Regions from separate parts of the Homo sapiens genome. Here region 2 is linked to region 1. Evidence: fine-mapped expression QTL. Tissue or cell type: whole blood. Region 1 holds a variant in brackets; the other region holds the start of a gene. All regions are shown on one strand. Distances are between the middles of the regions.

The links. PIP is the estimated chance that this variant, and not a neighbour inherited with it, causes the effect.
Region 2: it holds the start of ELOVL1, and the variant in region 1 is fine-mapped to the expression of ELOVL1 in whole blood (TOPMed, PIP above 0.99).

What each region holds. Positions count from the first base shown.
Region 1 is chr1:43,451,206-43,455,413 of GRCh38, forward strand. It overlaps SZT2 (SZT2 subunit of KICSTOR complex), which reads left to right. Exons shown (of 72, transcript NM_001365999.1): 72 at 1-3,042. HYI (hydroxypyruvate isomerase (putative)) reads right to left here and starts at 2,726. Exons shown (of 8, transcript NM_001190880.3): 1 at 2,390-2,726; 2 at 2,181-2,292; 3 at 1,000-1,114; 4 at 730-808; 5 at 593-642; 6 at 443-512; 7 at 205-339; 8 at 1-106. The coding sequence starts at 2,588. The coding sequence ends at 33. HYI-AS1 (HYI antisense RNA 1) reads left to right here and starts at 2,722. Exons shown (of 2, transcript NR_174945.1): 1 at 2,722-2,848. RefSeq lists enhancers at 1-615, 616-1,502 and silencers at 2,293-2,352, 2,463-2,762. The variant T/C (reference allele first, on the strand shown) is at 2,205.
Region 2 is chr1:43,365,730-43,372,128 of GRCh38, forward strand. ELOVL1 (ELOVL fatty acid elongase 1) reads right to left here and starts at 2,282. Exons shown (of 8, transcript NM_022821.4): 1 at 2,186-2,282. LOC112268225 (a long non-coding RNA gene) reads left to right here and starts at 2,483. Exons shown (of 2, transcript XR_007066049.1): 1 at 2,483-6,399. RefSeq lists silencers at 582-671, 1,932-2,611, 3,551-3,736 and enhancers at 989-1,723, 1,724-2,458, 3,052-3,131.

The DNA of each region.
Region 1 (4,208 bases):
TGTCTGGAGGCACGTGGGTGGTGTGCGGGCCCTCACTGGCCAGCCTCTGGGTGGCCCCGCCTATCCCAGTATGAACGTAGCCAACTCAAGCCCTCTACTGTGTCTCCTGCAGGGAGAGGGAGGCCTCGGCACCTCAGCCCACAAGGAGAAAACAGCCCCTGTCCGGGTCCCTCCAGAGCTCCCTTCCCCAGGGCCACGCCTCACCTCGAGGCTGATACTCACAGCCCACGAAGCCTTTGTAGCCTTCATCTTCCAGCAGTTGAAACAGATAGGGGAAATTCAGCTCTCCGGGGCTGCTGGGCTCCCCTCGGCCTGGGACCTGTGCCACCTGCACATGCCCTGGGGACAGATGTGGACAAATGTGGGGTCCAGGCTCCTGCCAGGGCCTGAAGGACAGATGTGGGGATTGAAAGGGTGGGAGGGCAAAGGAAGGTCCTCTCACCAACAATGGGCAGGAACTCCCGGATGTTTCCTGTCAGGTTCCCATCCATGATCTGCCAGTGGAATATGTCCTAGGGAAGAGGATACTACATTCCGAGACCCCGCAGGCCCCGCCCTCCTTCCGATCTGCGAAGTACCCCCTTCCACTTACCATTTGTAATTGGAGGTTGGGTCTTCCTACCTTCTGTAAGATGGCTGCCGCTGTAAGAGAAGCCAGGGAGGGGACCGTGAGCCTCAAGAGCACAGGAATCAAAAGGGACAGAAGGAGAGACAGGGCTGGGGTCGTACCCTGCTGGGGCGTGTCCAGGAAGTACTGGGGGTCAGTGATGCGGGTGTTGATGGGCTCCAGCAGTCCCACGAGGTCCTCCTAGCAGCATGTCGGGTGCTGTGAATAGAGCTCCTTCCCAAGTTTGTCCCCCATCAGTCAGTCACTGGTCAAGGCCCTCACCTGTTCCTCTGACCTAGGCTGGCAGCCTCACGTGCTGTCCCCACTGTGCACCCCCTTCTCCGCACACCCACAGAGACATGTAAGTACGTGTGTGTTTCCACCTTTCTCACCTGAGCCAAAACCCCAGCTGCATGCCTCAGGTTCTCCAGAAAAACGGCCTCCATCTCAGCCTTGACTGCTATTCGATCAGCTCCCTGGGGTACTCGGCCAGCCATCAGGTGGATCCTGTGGGGAAGATGGACTGGAGGCCTTGCCTCCCTTGGCTCTCTCTGCACCTCTTCCAGGATTCCCTGACTGTGCCAGCCCTCGTCCGTCTCCCCAGGTCTCCAGTCCATGGCACCTGGGTCACGATGCCCAGGTATCCCAGCACTTTCAGAGACACTTCAGTGATGGCTGAGGGGCAAGCCCTTTCCCAGACATCTCAGTGTCCACCCACCGCCTCCTGCCTCCAGTACTTTCCAAAACCTTTCCTTCCCTCGGTCCTTCTCCGCAACCTGTAACCTGCTAAATTCTCACCTTTAAAAATTGTCCTGACCTTTGCTTGCCCTTCTCAGGTATTCCATGCTGCTGTCTCTACTTCCTCTCCTCGCATCTACTTAGCCTTTTCCCATCTGTTTTCTGCCCCCACCATTGACCAGTAGTGATCCCCTCTTGCCAGTTCCTTCTGAGCCTGTTTGGCCTCTGCAGGATTTGACATTTGAATCAGCCCCACTTTGAGCCGTCCACCTCCTCCCATCATCCCCTGATCTTAGCCACATCCAGCTCCAAGCAGACATTCCAGGCCTCCCCATCCCAACAGGCTACATACATGTCCAGCCTCAGGAACGCTGCCAAATACACCAGGCCTCCTCTTGCCACAGCACCCTTGCAAGGAACACTCAACTTCCTGCCCATCAAGCAATGCCCACTCCTTGAAGACAGTCCAAGCATCACTACCTGTAAGCAGCTTTCTCTGATCCAGACAGGGTTAGGTGCCTACCCTGCTCCCACAGCTTCCTGGAATAGGCCTGTCCTCAAATGCATCACTGTATATATTTACTCTCCTATCTGCCTAGGCAGACTGAGCTCCCAGCATGGGATCCCAGCATGGGGTGAGCATGAAAGAGTGGCAAACAGAGTGGCATAAGACAGATAAAATACAAAAGGCAATTTACAAAGGACCAGGACCGCAGAGGCAGAGATAAACCAGTGGGCTCAGACTTCTGAGCGTCTCAGATCTGGCGTCCTCGACTCCCTGAACCTGCATCAGGGTCATGGGTCACAGGGGTGGGGGTGGGGTGGAGCGGGGTACCTGGGACAGCCCAGGGCTTTGGCA[T/C]ACCGCACGGCCTGCTCCAGTCCCTCTCGGAAGGCCGCCTGTCTCCCGGGGACGGCCCCCAGCCCCATTTCCCCCTTCTCTTGGTCTCCTGCAGAGAGAACGGGCCTCAGCCCCCGGCTCGGACACTCCCCTGCCCGCGCCCCGGCACCCCCCAGCCCTCCCAGCCCTCCCGGCCCGCGACGCACCCGGGGGCGTGTTGATCAGTACAAGCCGCAGCCCCGCTTCTCGCGCGGCGCGCGCCAGCGCCTCAGGCGTCTCCGCGTACGGCCAGGCCACCTCGACGGCCTCGAAGCCCGAGCTGCCCGCGGCCCGCACCCGCGCGGGGAGGCCGGAGAGCTCGGGGAATAGCCAGGACAGATTGGCGGAGAAGCGCAGCGGCGCCATGCCTGGGGAGGCCGGGCCGGGCGGAGTCCGCGGGATCCAAAGGCGGCGGGCGGCGGGCGGCGGGCGGCGGGCGGGGGCGGGGCTCTCCTTGCTGGCCCTGCGAACGAACGAGCACTGTTCGTGGTTAGAAAAGCGAAGTGCTGTAAAAACCCGGGCCTTCACGAAAAGCGCCTACGGTTAGCGAGAGAGGGATCACGGGGAGAGGCGAAGGGGCGGAGCGAGGGCGGCCGGAAAAGGAGCAGGACCCGCGCCTGGAGAAGGTAGGGAGGCCGAGCTCCAGGGCCTGAGAGCCGGACGCGAAGCAAGAGAGAGCTGGCTGCCCGAGGGCCCGGTTGCAATGATGGGACGCGCACTTTAATACTGAGTCTTTCCTCTGATTATAAAAATGCTATCTGTTCGTTAAGCAACATTTGAAAGCTGTATGACCAAATAAAGAAGCACTTTTATACCGCCAGTTATCACACCACTAGCCTGTTGGCTTTCCCGTCCAAATTTTAAAATATGCAATTTTTTTCTTTGGAAATTCTGATCATTCGGTATATGCTGTTTTATAGCTCTTTTTCATGGAATATTATTTTGTGAGCATTTCCTCGTGTTTTCCAATAGCCTTCAAAGTCAGTGCCTTCGCTGCTCATTGTCGCACACCTAAGCAGCAAGTCATTATTGTACTTTGTGGTTGGATATCGTGTGTGTGCACGCGCGCTGCAAGCGCACTTTCAGGCACTTCTTAGTCCCTATCTCTGACTCTTTTCCGAGTCTTTTTCTAGAGATGTCCATCACAGTGTTTGCCCGTTCACGCCGCTAGTCTTTTGCAAGGGAAACCGCCCCATTGGAGCAGCTATGGGTGAGCTGTCCCTTTTTAGCCTTAGCCTCAGCTGATTGGACCAGGGAGGTCATCTGATCCCAGGGCAGCCAATCCATAGACTGGCCAAAAACCTCTTACTTGCGTCGTTTGGAAAGGTAATTTAACCAATCAAGAGTTCAAACAAGGAAATGCTGAGAGTCAACAGGTGGTGTTGCCAGAAGGTGACTGGGCTGTAGAAACGAAATAAGACAGTCCTATGGTAAAGAAAAGCTAGAGCGGAAAGGAGGGGAACCAAGTCCTGTGAATAGAGGTAGCACCCTGAGAAACCCATGTCATCCCAAGGGTGCCCAAACCCATAGCTGCCCCCAGGTCTGTGCACTTAAGGCTGGGATGCTTAGACTTTCCTGGGTTTCTGTCTCTGTATAGCCTCTTAATGTTTCTTGAGATAATTTGAATGATTTTACTTTCATCTACAATAACCCAACTGATTGGGCAGGTTCTTATGGGTAGAATTACATGGTCAAAAATAGGAACATATTTAAGTTGTTGATATCTTAAATTTCCTTTGAAAAATATAAATTTATATCCCAACAATTCATGAGTAAACGTCATCTTGATCTATCGTCTGTGCTAACTTTGACAGAGAAGCTTAAAGTGCAACATTAGGAACACCCAGCTCCCACTGATTGTTCTGTCAACACTCAACTCCATCTCAAATGAGGCCAGCTCAGACACCAGGGATCCAGCCTGATCCCGTGGTGAACCCAAATTCTTGGCAGGTTCTGTTTCTTCAGCTCTGCCTCCAAGAACAGACT
Region 2 (6,399 bases), 84 kb before region 1:
AAAGGACAGAACAGTGAAAGGAAGGAATTACTGGGAACTAGGGGGAGGAGGCAGTTTGGTTGAGGCATCTGCTCCCCACACATCCTGCTTGCCTGGGAAGAGCTGTTCCACCCTTCCTCTCCACACCTTACTCTCCTCTCCTCTCCACAGTTTTACTTCCTGGCCTCCCTTCCCCTCTTCCTCCACAAGATAACTCTCAATTCCAGGTCTCTTACTGGAGAATCTTACCTTCTCACCAACAGGGAGCTCTTGAACTCCGTCTCCCTTCCTCACCCGAGTCCCTCACCTCCCCAGCTCTGGGTCTTTCTTCTCTCCAGGGATTCTCCCCTTCAATCTCTCCTCTCCTGCCCTCTCCTCTTCCCATCCCTCTGGACCCTTCCTGAACTCTCTTCTCCCCAGGGTCCCTCCTGTCCCTGCCAGGACTCTCACCTCTCTGGGCCCTTCTGTCCCTCCAGAACCTTATCCTCGGATTCCTCCTTGCCTGTGCTGGGACACTTATGTCCCTACGATTCTCCTCTGCCTTTCCTGGGACTCTCACCTCCAGCCTCTCCTCTCCAGCGCTCTCCTCTCTCCTCTCGCAGAGCCCTTCCTCTCCTGGAGCCTGGCTCTTTGAGACTCCTGCCCCGGCGGCTCCACCTGTCTGACTAGATCTGGCAGCAGCCCCGCCCTCTGCCCGCCCCTGCTGTACTGTGCAGGGGGTGGAGGGTGGGTCCGGGCCACAGGTCAGTGCCTGGGGGAGCAGGACCCACCAGGATTGGGAAAGCCAAGTAAAGCCCCAGACTCGCCACCCACCCACCCACGTGGGACCAGCCTGATGAGCTAAGGTCCTAGATTCTGAGCCAGAAACCTCCTCTGACCCCAGCCCCAGCCCCAGCCCTGGCCCAAAGCACTGCTGAAAATCCACACCCAGCATCCTCTCCTAAGCCGGCCATAACTGCTCAGTTTGTCCTACTTCAGAATGGGTACAATCACTCTTCCCTTCCTGGGAAGGGCAGGGAAGCCAGTGGCATGTGAAGGGGTTGGGGAGTGGGGGAGGTCGCAGGAATCTTCCCCTCCCTCAGGGAGGGGCCCCGTTGGGCTAGGCCCCCTCCCCCTCAGGGCCTGAAGGAATGTCGGGGGAAGGCTCCCAGGGACACAAAAGCCTCTGGCCAGACCCAGGAGAGCATGGTACTGACAGTCCCTGAGGGACAAGGCATTCTTGGAACAGAGCAGGGCCCAGGGCAGCAGGTGCCCCAGACTCCCTGCTTCCAGAGAAGCACCTCTGCAGATGCCAAGTGAAGAGGCGCACCTCTGACACCTCCCTGCCCCGCACACCCCTCACCTCCAGGAGGCCCGGCTTCTTTAGGCCCACCGTGGTCAGGCCCCAAGCCTGCGGTCCACACCCACCTCTCACCTAGCTCTCCACCCCCAACAGCGAAGGTGCCACGCCGAGGGCTGGCACACACGTCTCCTGCCTGACACACCACGCAACACCTCCGTGGGCTGACACGCATGGCTCCCGGCCCTCACGCAGCTCGGCCACCGCCCAGGCACACGCACGGGCTCACCCGCGGGGCCACTCACACACGTGTGCGCGCTGCCTGGCCACGCTCGGATCCCCTCCTTACTTGCTCCCCCACCATCGGGCTTGCTGGCCGCCCATCGCCGGCAGGGCCCAGGCCGGGGCGAGGGCGCCAACACAGGTTCCTCCCTGACACATGGGAGCCAGCCAGCCTGTTATCTCTCAACCACCAGCCCCCAATATCAACCCACACACCCGGCAGGCCAGGAGGGACCAAGGCTCCTGGGAGGACCTCTCCCCAAGCTGCAGGAAAATCTGGGTGTGTCTCTCGTCGGGGAACTCAGCCCGTCCCTTCCTTCCTTTAAGATGGATGGAAGGGAAAAGGTGCCTGGCAAAGTTAGGGTAGCGGGGGGAGGGAGGGGAGAGGAGGAGGGAGAGAGGTAAATGCAGGGGTGGTGGAGGAAGGCCCGGGTGTAGGCAAATGGGGGCCAGAGACGGGGGTGTGGGGGAGGGAGGGTGCTGGCGAGGCCCGGCCCCAGGGAGCTGGGACCTCCCACCCACTGGCCCCGGGAACACCCTCGCCCACAGCCTGGGCAGGGCAGGGCAGGGCTGGGCCGGGCTGGGCCGGGCTGGCCAGGCAGGGGGCGCCGGCACGTGGAGAGTCCGTGGAAGGTCCAGACTCACCCGTAGGGGCCAGGCGGGCAACGGCGGAGCGCTCGGAGGGAGCAGGGCCAGAGAGAAGTCCCCGGGGCCAGCCTGCCTGCCTGCCACTTCCTCATCTGCTGGGCCGACTTTCTGTCACCAGAGGGGGAGGGGCGGGCCGCGCGGGGGGCGCCCGCTGATTGGGCGGCCGGCAGGGCCGGAGGCCGGCAGCGCAGGCTCGGCCGGGGCGGGGGCAGGGGCGTGCCGCCGGGTCCCAGCAGGAAGCGCCGCGGCCCGGGCTTCCCACCCCTTCCCTCGCCGCCCGGGCCCGCCCTGGCCAGTTGCAGCGGCCTGGCCACCTCAGGAGCACGCTGTCTCTTCCCGACGTGCAGCCCGGGGCCCGGCCCTGTCCCCGGGTGACTGCTCCCCGGCAGGACTGCACATCTGTGGCGGCAGGCCCAGCTCAGGGCTCGGGGGAGGTTCGGCCTTGCCTTCAAAGAGCTCCCTCTCCTGCAGGGCGAGCGCAGAGCGGCGGGCGAGACCACACTGCGTGTGCTGAGGGCGCACTGGTCTTAGCGGGAGGGAAGCCTCACGAGCCTGTACACTTGGAGGAGCCCTAAGCGTTAGGATCTGCTGCGAGGGCTGCCTGGAACGGAGGTGAGAGGATACAAGTGGCCCGGGGCAAGCATAGTGAATCACTGGCTAATCTGGCCTTCGAGGTAGTGAAAGGAAAAAAGGGAAATGAAGCTGACTGTGGCTGAATGTAGTAGGTCTTGAAGGCCAAATGGGGCGATCTGATTTTTATTCTAGAAGCAGAGGAGAAACTAAAGATTTTTTTAGGAGACTATATTCAAGCTTGTATCATTAGTTCATCAGACGTTTATGGACCACCCACCGTCCGTGCACTCACGGGGCTTGCAGTCTATCTGGCTGAATCACTTTGGCAGCCAGTGTGAGGAGGGCACAGAAAGGAGACCAGGTGAGAAAGCCAGCCTGACCAAAGAAGATGTGGCAACTGATGGGATTGGAGGAGGCGGACAATGTCCTCCAGACAGCTGGACTGGCTCTCTATATATTTATTTATCTCTTCTACACCTCCAGCCCCCACCTCCACACTCACTAACTGGACTCAACTAGTGGGGGCAAAGGACAGACTAGATTTTAGTGAAATGGAATTTCTACCTCCAGCGGCCCCTGGAACAGTAGCACACAACGATCTAACAACTGCTTGTATGATTGGATGGTGTAAGTGCGGACAGAATTAGGGAATTTGGGCTACTCTGGGCACACTGCTTATGGGGCAGCCCTGCTCCGCAAGGAAAATAAACACATTTTTTTAAAAAAAGGCCGGGCGCGGTGGCTCACGCCTGTAATCCCAGCACTTTGGGAGGCCAAGGCAGGCGGATCACGAGGTCAGGAGATCGAGACCATCCTGGCTAACACGGTGAAACCCCATCTCTACTAAAAATACAAAAAATTAGCCGGGCGTGGTGGCGGGCGTCTGTAGTCCCAGCTACTCGGGAGACTGAGACAGAATGGTGTGAACCCGGGAGGCAGAGCTTGCAGTGAGCCGAGATCGCACCACTGCACTCCAGCCTGAGCAATAGAGCAAGACTCTGTCTCAAAAAAAAAAAAAAAAAAAAAAAAAAGGCCGGGTGCGTTGGCTCACGCCTGTAATCCCAGCACTTTGGGAGGCTGAGGCGGGCAGATCACCTGAGGTCAGGAGTTTGAGAACAGCCTGGCCAACATGGTGAAACCCCGTCTCTACTGAAAATACAAAAATTAGCCAGGCATGGTGGCGCAAGCCTGTAATCCCAGCTACTCGGGAGGCTGAGGCAGAAGAATTGCTTGAACCTGGGAGGCGGAGGTTGCAGTGAGCCGAGATCAAGCCACTGCACTCCAGCCTGGAGTGCAGGGCAAGACTCCGTCTCAAAAAAAAAAAAAAAAGGGAATTCGGAGACCAGCCTGGGCAACACAGTGAAACCCCATCTCTACTAAAATACATTTAAAAAAAAATTAGCTGGGCATGGTGGTGTGCGCCTGTTGTCCCAGCTACTTGGGAGGCTGAGGCAGGAGAATTGCTTGAACCTGGGAGGCAGAGGGTGCAGTAAGCCGAGATCATGCCACTGCACTACAGCCTGGGCAACAGAGCAAGACTCGTCTCCAGAAAAAAAAAAAAAAAAAAAAAAGATGTTCATAAATGGTAGGATAGGCTGGGGATGGAGGCTCACACCTGTAATCCTAGCACTTTGTAAGGCTGAGGCAGGCAGATCACTTGAGCTCACAAGTTCGAGCCTGGGCAACATCGTGAGACCCCGGCTCTACAAAAAATACAAAAAATCAGCTGGGCATGGTGATGCATGCCTATAGTCCCAGCTACTCTGGAGGCTGAGGTGGGAGGATGACTTGAGCCCAGGAAGTGGAGGTTGCAGTAAGCCAAGACTGCGCCACTGCACTCCAGTCTGAGTGATAGAAACCTTGTCTCTAAATAAATAAATAAATAAATAAATAACTCCACAAATGGTGGGATATAGCTATGTGAAAGTTTAGTCCTAGAGTTTAGGTAAGAGGTCTGAGCCAAAGTACAGATATGACCCAGCCTATTAGTACCCATCCTTGAAAGGAAATGGCAGAATTCACTGTTTAAAAGGCTCCAACACTAAGGTCCTAACTGATCTGGTCCCTGCCTTGTCCTCTCATTCTACCTGTGACACTCTCCTGGGCCCCACCCAGTGCTTTAACCATTCCCCGAGGATGTCAGCATCTTTCATACCCCCCTCAACCCTCAAACCTTGCCCCCTGGCTCAGCACAAGGAACAGTCAGGTCTCCTAGGCAGTAAATCACTCCCTCCTCTTGCTCCCACAATTGTAATTATATGCTTATCTGCATCGCAAAACTATAAGCTCCTCTCAGCATGGGCCATGTTTTGTCATCTCTGTATCTCCAGCATCTGGCCCGTTATCTGGTACTCAGTTGGCCCTCTACCTTTGTTGAATGAATGTTAGTGTGAATGGGATGACGTGGGAAAGGAAGAGAGGCCAAGGGAACCAGAGTCAAGTGGAGAGGACAATAAGAATTAGAAAGCCTTTCCATTTCCCTTGGGAACAGTATCACTGAGTCCATAAATATTTATTGAAAGCCTGTGTTCCAGGTATACTCTAATGACTTCAGGTTCACACCTGACTCCAAAGCCATGAGTTTAAATGTTCCAATTAGTACCTGTGTGACCTTATGTAAGTTGCTGAACCTCTATAAAATTGGAGCAATAAGAGTTCCTATCTCATAGGATTGCTGTAAAGACTGAAAGAGATAACACATGTAAGGTGTTCAGCACTGTTTCTGTCTCAACATTTAATGGACAAGGTGGGAAAGTGCCCAAAGTATCAGGAAGGTACATACTTATATGTAGATTCATGAGCATTCTTTTAATAATCTTTCCTAAACAGTTACTGTGTGCAAACCACTGTTGTGAGAGCACTATTGAGAGATTTTGGATTAAATGTCCATCATAAGAGTGCACTAGAGACAAAGCAGACTATTATAGATGATGAAACTGTCCCAGAGGCCAAACACAGCAGTGATAGGAAACTTCAACTGTGTTTTTATTTACCTGGACCACATTTGTAAATGACCATGGCAGGCCCTCAATAAATGCTGACTGACTACATGAATGAACATGCTCAAAGACAGTTGTTCAGCTCTTGTCCCAGGTTCTATCATACCCCTCTCCCCCTTCCTGAGTTTCTTTTGTTCAGTTTGGCAAACAGTGAATGGATGTTTGCCAAATATTTGAGGATGCTCAAATATCTGATATAGACCACTTAGCCCCAAATCCTACCAAATGGCATCTTCATGGCCCTGGGGTTCCTGCAAAACACTCAGTCTGATGGAAAAGACAGACATATAGATGAGCAATTATATATGTGGTGAGTGTTCCCATAGAGATAAACCCAGAGGGTTATGAAAGCACTGGGGTGCGGGGGCACCTTAACTCAGTATGGAGGCTAATTCTTAAAGGTGATGCAAAAATGACACTTAATTGAGCATTAAAGGTCACTTTCTAGGCCGCGTAAGGTGGCTCATGCCTGTAATCCCAGCACTTTAGGAGGCTGAGGTCGGTGGATCACCTGAGGTCAGGAGTTCGAGACCAGACTGGCCAACATGGTGAAACCCTGTCTCTACTAAAAAATACACAAAAATTAGCCAGGCCTGGTGGCAGGCGCCTGAAATTCCAGCTACTCAGGAGGCTGAGGCA